Linked DNA regions of Homo sapiens. The protein of the gene in region 3 purifies or fractionates together with the protein of the main gene of each other region. This does not show direct contact. Each region holds a gene or a part of one and is shown on either strand. Other genes may lie near its edges.

Region 1 (3,653 bases), on a different chromosome or scaffold from region 3:
CTGTCAGGGGATAAAGGGCCCACCATGAGGAAAACCCACCACACATGATAAGCACAGAAGCAGCCTCTTGTTGGCAGCCAAATGCGCTCCTCAGACTCAGATCTTGAGGGGGTCGCAGTCAGCTCAATGCCTACTCCTCAAGGGCCCCATGACCCGGCACAGAGCTGGAGGCGGGGCACGGGTCTGGAGGAGGGACTCACAAAGGGCAGGGAGCCGGAGGAGGGTGTTGGTCAGGAAGGCTCCTGCCCCAGGGCCCTGGGCGAAGCCAGCAGCCTGGAGAGGGACACGGTGAGCAGTGAGCGAAAGCCAGAGGTGCGGAGGCCAGAGCTCTTCCCAGGACCTTCAAGTGTCCCAGATAGTCCCAGGGCCGGAGGCTGGAGTCAGCCCAGGCAAGGCCTCAGGGGCTAGCCAGGGAAGTGGGGCTCTGCCCATGGCAGGTTTCTGGGGTGCAAGGTCCCAGCTAGCCCAAAAGGGAGACACTCCAGCAAGCCTGGCGGGGGGTCCAAGGAGAGATACAAAGACTCCCAGGGCCCTAACACACCCACCACGGACTCAGCTCACAGAGAGAAAGGAGAAATGCCCATTTGCAAGGGCCCTTAGCACAGAGGCCTGCTCTGCCAGCTCCTTCTCTTTTCTCATAACTGAAGTGGGGGCAGGGCGGGGGTGGGTTGTTTAGTTGTTTGTTTGCTGGAACTGGTGGCAGCACCAGACCTGACCTTTAAGGCTTCAAATGCAGCGTTTTAGGCGGGGCCAGCAGGAGGAGAACACGGGCTGTGGAAGGAAGTGATCAAGACTGAAATGCCACGTCAGGCTGGAAACTCGAGGCAGAGCATGGGCCTCTACCATCTCAGGAATACGCCAGCCCCTCCAAGCCCACACTGCCTGGTGACAAAGTTGTCCTTCCCAAGGGGACCCAGAAAGCTTTTATGTCTCTGAAACAGCACAGGGACATCAGAGTTTGCCCCACAGAAACCCAAGGAGTTGGGGCCTCACACCACATAGACATCTTGCCCTTCGAGTTTGCCAAAGCAGACCTCAACTTGCCCCCCGACCCATGCCATAGATTTTATTTATTTATTATTTATTTATTTATAAATGACAGGCTCTCACTCTGTGTCCAGGCTGGAGTCCAATGGCACCATCACAGCTCCCTATAGCCTCAACTTCCTGGGCTCAAGCCATCCTCCCACCTCAACCTCCTGAGTAGCTGAGACCACAGGTGTACACTACTACACCTGGCTAATTTTTGTATTTTTTTGTAGAGATGGGGTTTTGCCATGTTGCCCAGGCTGATCTTCAACTCCTGGGCTCAAGTGATCCTCCCACCTCGGCCTCCTAAAGTGCTGGGAGTACAGGCGTCAGCCACTGCACCCGGCTGGATATTTTTATTTAAGAGAAACAGCTGTACATCAGTGCGAGGAAGGCTGCATAGGGAGTCGCCCTCCCCGCAGTCTGTACTGAGCATTAGGGATGAGGGCTGGGCCCTGCCCACAGAGTATGTGCAGCCACAGATATGTGGGGCTTGAAGGTTCCCTTCCCCCATCTTGGGCCTCAGTTTCCGTGTCTATATGATGGTGGTATCAGGACCTCAGGGATTTCTGTGGCTGTGGCATGTCCTTTCCAAGTCAGGGACGCATGCAAAGCCCATAATGCCCAAGGAGACGGTTGCACCCAGGCTCCCTGCCCCCACAGGAACCCCTCCTGGCCTGTAGGCTCCTGAGCCCCTCACAGCCACTTCCCAAAATCCCAAGGGCCCTGGGCCATCGCAGCACTGACAACACACAGGCGCGTCCTGAAAATGCCAGGAAAGCAAAACTCTCAGACAACAGAACCCACGAGAACTGGGTCCACACAGCTACTGGGGCCAGGGCCCATCACAGGGCATCACTGGACAGCCTTATTTATGAAGACTCAGTAGACAAAAATCCATCCTTGAAGGAAGTGTCTTCGCTGGAGATGCTCCAGATGGAGAACATGTGGAGGAATCATCCCTCCAGATCATCAAGGGATCATCAAGCCAAAGTTTTTACAGCCCAAATCGTGCCCACAGTGTCTTGCTGCGGGGAGGACCCAAACCCACAGCAGATACTCAAGGGCTGCCAGTCTCCTGCCCTTCAGTGTGCAAATGAGAAGCACCCACTCTGAAAGGGAAAAGTGCCAGCCCAAGGTCACACAGCAAGAGCTTCCCACTCTGCCTGAGCCCAGGCTCCACGCCCACCCTCCAGATTTTCCACGCGGGGAAGGGCTGTTTGCAAAGATGCTTCACTTCACAAAGGACTCACGGAGCTCCTCTGAGTCCCAAGTCCTCCACTGAATGTAAATACCATTCAATTTGCAAAAATTTGAATTACAAGGACGCAGCCTCTGTTTCCTTTGCAGACTGTCATCACGCCAGTTGGTAGAAGATCAAACTTTCCAGCTCAGCTTTAACTCAGGCTGTTTCTAACATAAAAGTTTGCAAAACACTGGCCCTAACAATCAGGATGCTTTATTTCCCACTGCCAGTGTTTGCCCAGCCGAGCCCTGGCATTAACCTCAAAGGCAGGTGGTGAAGGTGGGCACTAGGAGCCCATTCTGGCTGCAGAGATAAACCACACGTGTGCTTGCACTACATAGGCTCCCAAGCACATGCCCGCATTTGACTTCATATGCACATACACGCACACACCTACTGCTGCCTACACACGAGAATGCCCATGCACACACATCTACACACATGCATCCATGTGTGAGTACAAACACACGCACACAAGTGGGTATACGCACAAGCATGCTTAGATGTGAACACGTCTGACACATGCACACATACATGAACACACAGGTGTAGACACGCCCACATACAAGCTGACATGTGCACACAGGCAAAGGCAAGAGCCAAACACAAGAGGAAAGACTCACAAACCACAAGTGGGTCCCAAGTGCCTGTAGGGCCTGGATGGGTGCTGGGTGCTATGGATGAGGGGATAGTGGCTGGCACTTGGAGTGCAGGCCCAGCTAGACTGCAAATACCCCCTAGATCCAGTCGGGATCCACATGCCCTTATCACAGACTCCCTGGGGCCAGGCCCATCCCTCACAGTCTATCACACCCCAACCCTATGTGGCAGTACAGCCACGGAAGCCCTGTTTTACAGATGAGGCTCCAAGACCCTGAGAGGCTGTGGAAGTTCCCAAGGTCACACAGCTGTTGAGAGGTGTGGCAGAGTCTCAGTGCACACGAAGAGGGGGCTTGTTCAGAAAGAACTAGCCATCAGGGAAGGCAGGCATCAAAGGGGAAGAAAGGGGCCCAGGGTCTAAGAGGGGCAGGGAAAAGACAGGCAGAAGGAGTGACTTCTCAGCCTTTTCACCCACCTCTTCCCCTTTGTTGAATGAGGATCATTTCCAAGGTGGGAAAGATGGATACTGATCAGCAGGAAAGGCTTCCCATGCCCCTCCCCCTCTGCTAAACAATTAGGCTGATCAGAACTCAAAGGGGGTCAATCTGAAAAGCAGCCATGAGACACCCAAGGTATGGCCAAAGGAGGACGGGAGGTCCAGGCACCCTCACACTGGAAGAGACAAGGCCCAGCGGCCACAGCTAAAGCAGGGCGTGGAGAGGAGCAGGAAGACCCCAGATCTGTCTTCTTAGGGCATTGGAATGTCAGAGTTGGAAGG
Region 2 (3,653 bases), about 100 Mb from region 3:
CTGGTCTCATAAAAAAAAGAAAGAAAAGAAAAAAGAAATGGACAAAGACTAAACGTAAACTTAAGGTTTTGAGACTCTTCGTCCTTCCTCAAATCCATACTTCATTACATTTTCTTCAGTTTTTCTTCTTTCTTACAGGGTGTTTCTATGTGTATGATATTATAAGACTGATTTACAGCTCTGACTTAGCCACACCCTGGTGTATCGCAAATTTTCTTTAAAAAATTATCAAAACAAAGCATCAAATCACTGCAGTTTTTAAGAAAGCACATGACATGCAGCATTTTTAGGATAGAAAGAACCTGGAAAATTGAAAAAAATTAAAAACATAAGCAATACTAAAAATTTGACATTTGAGACTTAGACTAGAGACATATTGAATTCTCATTTAAGGCATAGCTTTTACATGTAAAGTTATAACTAAAATCAAGCAGGGGAAGGACACTGTGTTTGCATTTCATTCTCAGAACACAGACCTCCCAACTCCATCCCTTCCAGCCACTGCCTAGCAATGTGACATAGCCAACTCACGATTCTGGCAGAAGTCTTCATCAGACCCATCAGGACACTGCTGCACTCCATCGCAGGCGAGCGTGATGTCAATGCAGCAGCCATCGTCACAGAAGAAGTGGTAGCGTGAGCAAGTGTGCAAACATCCTATTTGTAAACAAATCTCAAGTCACACGAGTGCAGAAGTTCAGACTCTCAAGATGGGGATGACAAAGGGGAGTCCGTGGGGATGATAAAATGCACTTCGGGGAAGAGATGCAAATAATGAGGCAAACCTAACAATTCCAGCAACAGGTTCTGGAGAGGTTGGAGGGCTCTTTTTGAGCCTCCCGACTTAATTCTTCAGACTCCTCAGGGGCTCTTGGTCTGAGGGCTGTTCTCCATGCTTGCCTTGCCAGGAGGTGGCACACAGAAGCAACAGCCCAGGTCTCTCTCCACCCTTGATTCCCCGCCTCAGCTGTCTCCCTCTTCATTCATTCATTCATAGAAACCATTGTTGGAACCTCTTCTTCTGGCTGTCGATTGCTCTGCAGGAGGGCACCTAATACCATCCCATCCCCTGGATGGCAGTTGGCTATGTTTTAACAGAGATACCATTTATTTATTTATTTACTTACTTAAGACAAGGTCTCACTCTGTCGCCCAGGCTGAAGTGCAGTGGCACAATCTTGGCTCACTGCAACCTCCGCCTCCCGGGTTCAAGAGATTCTCTTGCCTCAGCCTCTGGAGTAGCTGGGACTACAGACATGCACCACCACACCCGGTTAATTTTTGTGTTTTTTGGTAGAGATGGGATTTCACCTTGTTGGCCAGGCTGGTCTCGAACTCCTGACCTCAACTGATCCACCTGCCTCGGCCTCCCAAAGTGCTGGGATTACAGGTGTTAGCCACCGTGCCTGGCCCAGAGGTACTATTTTACATATGCTATGTCTTACATTCTTGTCTCCTAAGTAATACTTTTCACTGAGATTAAGTTTTTACTATTGAATCCTATTTGTTGATTATCATAACGTCCCTGGTACTGTAGAGAATAAACAAAATTTAGTTATGGGCTGGCATGAATTTAGTTTCATGAAATAATGACATTGGCCAGGCGTGGTGGCTCACACCTGTAATCCCAGCACTTTGGGAAGCTAAGGCGGGTGGATCACAAGGTCAGGAGATCGAGACCATCCTGGCTAACACGGTGAAACCCCGTCTCTACTAAAAATACAAAAAATTAGCCGGGCTTGGTGGCATGCACCTGTAGTCCCAGGTACTCGGGAGGCTGAGACAGGAGAATCACTTGAGTCTGGGAGGCAGAGGTTGCAGTGAGCCAAGATTGTGACACTGCACTCCAGCCTGGGCGACAGAGGGAGACTCTGTCTCAAAAAAAAAAAAAAAGAAAGAAATAACGACATTTCTCCCTTCTGGAGTTCTTAGGAGCTTTTAATTTGCAGTGCAATTCATAGGAGCTACAAATATTTTCCTGAAATGCATTTTCCCTCTCCCTTGATTAAGCCAACTTTATTAGACTTAGCTAGAGGAGAACCGGGTGACTATCTGGTACTGGCAACATGGACTAAGGCACAAGGCTAGAAGCAGGTCACAGGAGCTCCACGGTTTTACAGGGACAGAGTGGACTAGACAATTCTCTCAGGAACATGGGGAAGTGGCAGATTATATGATATTCCTTCAAAACCAAATGGCTGAGCACAGTTCACAAACCCAAGTGAAATCTTGGACATACACTTGGTTTTTTTTTGTTTTTTTTTTTTTTGTAGATACAGGGTGTCACTATGTTGCCCAGGCTGGTCTTGAACTACTGGACTCAAGCAATCCTCCTGCCTCAGCCTCCCAAAGTGCTGAGATTACAGGTGTAAGCCACTGCGCCCGGCCTTGGACACATCTTTTATTGAAACGTGGTTAAATCAAGAGGTTGGAAAAGGAGTCTATCTTGGTGTGAGGCAATTTGAAGATATATTGATCCAGGAGGAAGAGAAGTTAAAGAAAATAAATGGTGATAGAAGCTCCTGCGGAAGAAGAGGAAGCAAAGAGCCTGCAGTTATGACTGAGAACATGGGCCTGAAGGAGAGTCAGCTCCGGCCACTGGGAAGAAGCAGGGAGCGGAGGTGGGGGACACGCTGGATATCAAGCAGGATACAGTTCCTCGTCAGGTTTCTTAAATTCATGGCATGAAAATCCCAGATATCTCAAGGTTTTATTTATTCTTTGGTGATTTTGGAGATGGATCCATATTTGTAAATTTTCTATCTATTTTTGGATTAGCAGCCTCCAAACTTTTTTGATCATGCATCCTGATCAATAATATATTGTTGAACAGGCATCTCCAGTTTATTTATTTATCTATTTATTTGAGACGGAGTCTCGCTGTGTCGCCCAGGCTGGAGTGCGGTGGCACAATCTCAGCTCACTGCAGCCTCCAGCTCCCAGGCTCAACTGACTCTCATGTCTCAGCCTCCTGAGTAGCTGGGATTACAGGCGTGTCCCACCACATCCGGCTAGTCCGGTTTATTTATAAATAATACGTGCATACTACTGTACTAACATGGGGTGTATCTTATAAAATATACTCAAATTTTAAGGAAAAAAATTAAAAATCAGCAAAAATATAAACTCTGCTGTCTTCTTTCTCACCCTAAAAATGTCTTGAACAACTCAGGGGCATCCTGTTTGGAGACTGCTGAGTTAGATCATGTTGGAAGAGCTTGCTGGCTTGCTGTTTGATCATTTTTCTAAGCATGAAAAATGTTCAAAATGTCAACTTATTAAAAATTGAACCAAGTTATGATCATATAAGCAGGGTACCTGCTCATCTGTCTACCTCAGCTAGTGTCACCCTTGGTTACCATAACATCTGGGTCATTCATTGCAAGACCAATACATACAATGCAGGGGAGGGAAACACTTGTCTCTTCTACCTCTATTTTCCAATGTCTCTCTGTGGTGTTTTATTAACTTTAATTCATAGCATGTTATTCCAATATAACCACTAAGTGATTCTAGACAGCAGTTAGTACTTCACCAATTCCTTTTTATTTTCCATATAAAGTTACCCACACAAGACCTATACTCAAGCGGCCACTGAGTAATCAAAAATGATTCACACACCACTCTCTGCTACTTCAAATACAGTTTATTAT
Region 3 (3,753 bases):
AATTTTAGTGGCACGCAGACACACCCATTTGCTAACACATTGTCTATAACTGCTTTTGCATTAAAATAATGCAGTTGAGATCATAGGGTTCATAAAACCTACAATATTGGTTGTCTCACTTATTTCTAGAAAAAGTGTGTTAACTCCTACTCTGGCTTTATATTTTCTTATCAATCATGAAAGAATGGGTGAGGGATTTGTAGCTGGGGTCACAAGAAGACATGTCCAGGAGAGCAAAACTGCAACTAAAATTTGCACATTATAAGAAACACAAAATTTGACACAATACAAAAATAACTTTGTAATAGTCAAAGCTGTAAGAAAAGATATGTTTTTTTTTTAGCTTAAAGATGGACTCTCACTAGAAGTTTCTTATTTAGAATTGAATATATTTAGGGGGTTTGAGGACATTGGTTTGATTGGTTATGTGATCTATTCCAAGTCAATTTTTTTAAGTTTATATTTTAAATTGTACCAAGTCAAAATTTTTTTATTTTATATTTTAAATTGTACCCTGGCCGATTCGTTTTCAGAAGTCATTTGTTTTGTAGCCTTTTTTTTTTGTATACACATCAAATTCTTGACCAAAGGACAGATTTAATATTTTCACATATGAAAACAAATAAATTATGCCACTGTTTCCTGCTATTAATTATTGCTTGGTCTTCTCAAAGGCCAGGCCTTTTGGCCTAGGCAGTCTGTCTGCAGTTCCAACAGCTGACACCTGATGGTGAGTAGTAATACCTGTTAGCTAATACATAGACTCAGAGCTACATTATCTATGTCATTGGTATAATGGCTATAAAACCAAGTCCTACTATTAATATTGGCTTTCTTCTCAATGTAACCAAAGCAATTCAGAGTATGAAGCAACTTAAAGAAACAAAAGCATAGAAGAGCATCTAGTTAATCTGCACAATTTAAATATTCACTTCTAAAGATCATTACTTATTCTACATTTTCTGAGGAGTTATTATTATCAAACCCATATGTGATTACCCGTGACAGACACCTGAATTATACTCACTTTTGGCAAAAGTTCTGTCATGTTTGGCACTGTTGTCCATGAATGCACCTTGGACTGACCCCACCCCTTCTCTTATTCATTCTTTGTCTTATTTCACCTTTCTAAAACATTATTGTCTTCTTTCTCCTCATTCTGACCTCTACATGTGTTCTCCAGTTTGTGTCCTTGGATTGCTAATCTCCTTTGCAAGCATTCATCTCCTCATTCAAATAGTATCAATTAAATATACTCCCTGTCAATTGGATGCCAAGCTCAAGGGCATGGTGTCTCACTCTAAGCAATATTGATCTTTTGAATAGGACAATTCTTTGCTCTAAGGGGCTGTTCCATGCATTGTAGGTTATTTAGCAGCATCCTGGGTTCTATCTACAACTGGTACTGTGCCAGTAGTACAAGTTGTGATGAGCTAAAAGGTCTCTAGACGTTGCCTGATGTTCCCTTGAGCACAAATTCACTCCTCTCTGAGAACCACTGGTCTAGTGATACTTCGATATTTCAATAATTATTATTTCTGCCTTCAAATACATTGTTCAAGTCCAATCTGTCTGAAGTCTCTGATCATTACTTTCAACAAAGTAAAATCTCTCTCCATTTCTGTCTCACATCACTTTTTGTTATGATATTATTTTAGATTCACAGAAGAGTTGCAAAGTTGGTGGAAGCCAGCTTCCACTTATGTTATATATTGCATAAACTTGGTAATGTTAATTAAGATTAACGAATTAATGTTGATGTAATAGTATTTACTAAGCTATTCAGATTTTGCCAGTTTTCATACTTGTTATTTTTGTCTGTTTTTCACTATTGTCTTTATTATCTGTTCTGGAGTCCAATCTAAAATACCACATTACATTTTTGTGAAATGATGTTTTAATCCCTATGTTATTATCATATTTTTTATCAAGAAACAACTTATGTCTTCTCAAATTTGTTAGTATAAATCCCCACAAATATTTGCATATTACCTGGTAAAATTGTGACCCAAAAGTGCAGAATAAAGAAAAAAAGTTGAATCTTCATGGTAGAGAGTTTCTTAAAAAAAGGGGGCAACAGACCTCCTTTTTCAAGTCAGTTGTTTTGAAATAAGGAAACAGAGATCCCTTTTATTTGTGGATTCTCCTGGGAAGTACTTTTAACCACTGAGGCTTATCAAGAGCAAGAACATTTGTATGCTTGGTTGAATAGTGCCACCCTCAAAGAACATGAACTCAAAAAGTATTATTAAATTTTTCTCATAAAAGTAAAACCTGCTGTGTAACCTTAACTAGACTTTCATGAAAACAACACAGTTTTTAAGATATTTTATTTATAGGGGATATGTGTTTGGATTGCTAAATGTTATAGTAATCATCTCCTCTATTCTATGTTATATGTAATATTAAGTATTCTAATGCCTTAGTATAAAATTGTTGAATGCCTGAATCATAAGATTTTAGAGAAAAAGTTTCCATTGAGATCAGTTTTGTTTTGCTGATAAAACAATGAGAACCAGGGAGATTAAATAACTTTATTTCAATTAATATAATATGCAATTATTTAAATAATCAGTAAATTCTGGATTCACTAAAAATGTGAGAAATATTCTATATGTCTTTTTTTTTTTTTTTTTTTTTTGAGATGGAGTCTGGCTCTGTCACCCAGGCTGGAGTGCAGTAGCACCATCTCAGCTCACTGCAACCTCTGCCTTCCAGGTTCAGGTGATTCTCCTGCCTCAGTCTCCTGAGTAGCTGGGATTACCGGTGCCTGCCACCACGCCTGACTAATTTTTGTATTTTTAAAAGAGATAGAGTTTCACCATGTTGGTCAGGCTGGTCTCAAACTCCTGACCTCATGATCCACCCGCCTCGGCTTCCCAAAGTGCTGGGATTACAGTCATGAGCCACCATGCCCGGCCAAGTCTTTGTATGATTCATAAATTTTCTATAGTCATCTGATTTCAAAATTTCAGGTTCAATGTTTTAATTCTGTTTATGGAACTGAAAATTTCATATCTGATCTAAATTGCATGCTTGCAAAAACTATTATTTTGGATATGTGAGAAAGAGCTGGAAGTTTTGCCCAGTACTCAGAAGCTGATGCTATAAAGAAAAACAATTGGCCAGGTGTGGTGGCTCACACCTGTAATTCCAGCACTTTGGGAGGCTGAGGCGGGTGGATCACCTGAGGTCAGGAGTTCTAGATCAGACTGGCCAACATGGTGAAACAACCCCGTCTCTACTAAAAATACAAAAATTAGCCGGCCATGGTGGCAGGCACCTGTAATCCCAGCTACTCAGGGGTCCAAGGCAGGAGAATCACTTGAACCTGGGAGGCAGAGGTTGCAATGAGCCAAGATTGTACCATTGCACTCCAGCCTGGGGTAAAAGAGTGAGACTTCCTCTCAAAAAAAAAAAAAAAAAAAAAAAAGAAAGAAAAAGAAATCAATTAATCAATTATTTCCTACCACATAGTTAATTTTTAAGACAGTGGTTCCTAAACTTTAGCTGCATCAGAATCCCTTAGAAAGCTTGCTAAAATCAGATTGCAGTGTCCCACCCCCGGCATTTCTGATTTAGTAGATCTGGAATAGGGACTAAAATTTGCTTTTCTAACAAGATCATTGAATGCTAATGCTGCTGAAAGGGACCACATATTAGTCTAGGAAACCTAACTCATTCATTCTATAATGTCTAGGAAAAATGTTTCACAGAGTCATAGAATCTGCAGCATACATTAATAAAGAATTA

Evidence for each region.
Region 1: the proteins of DEFB110 (region 3) and CACNA2D2 purify together in Homo sapiens (affinity purification with mass spectrometry; one large-scale study listed by BioGRID and IntAct). This does not show direct contact.
Region 2: the proteins of DEFB110 (region 3) and LRP11 purify together in Homo sapiens (affinity purification with mass spectrometry; one large-scale study listed by BioGRID and IntAct). This does not show direct contact.

Annotation. Positions count from the first base shown.
Region 1 is NC_000003.12:50,493,599-50,497,251, forward strand, and holds part of CACNA2D2 (voltage-dependent calcium channel subunit alpha-2/delta-2 isoform b precursor), read right to left. Parts: intron 1-3,653. UniProt on the Homo sapiens protein: The alpha-2/delta subunit of voltage-dependent calcium channels regulates calcium current density and activation/inactivation kinetics of the calcium channel.
Region 2 is NC_000006.12:149,836,807-149,840,459, forward strand, and holds part of LRP11 (low-density lipoprotein receptor-related protein 11 isoform 1 precursor), read right to left. Parts: exon of another isoform or gene 3,632-3,653; intron 658-3,631; coding exon 532-657; intron 1-531.
Region 3 is NC_000006.12:50,019,889-50,023,641, forward strand, and holds the start of DEFB110 (beta-defensin 110 isoform a precursor), read right to left. Parts: upstream 2,107-3,753; 5' UTR 2,048-2,106; coding exon 1,993-2,047; intron 1-1,992.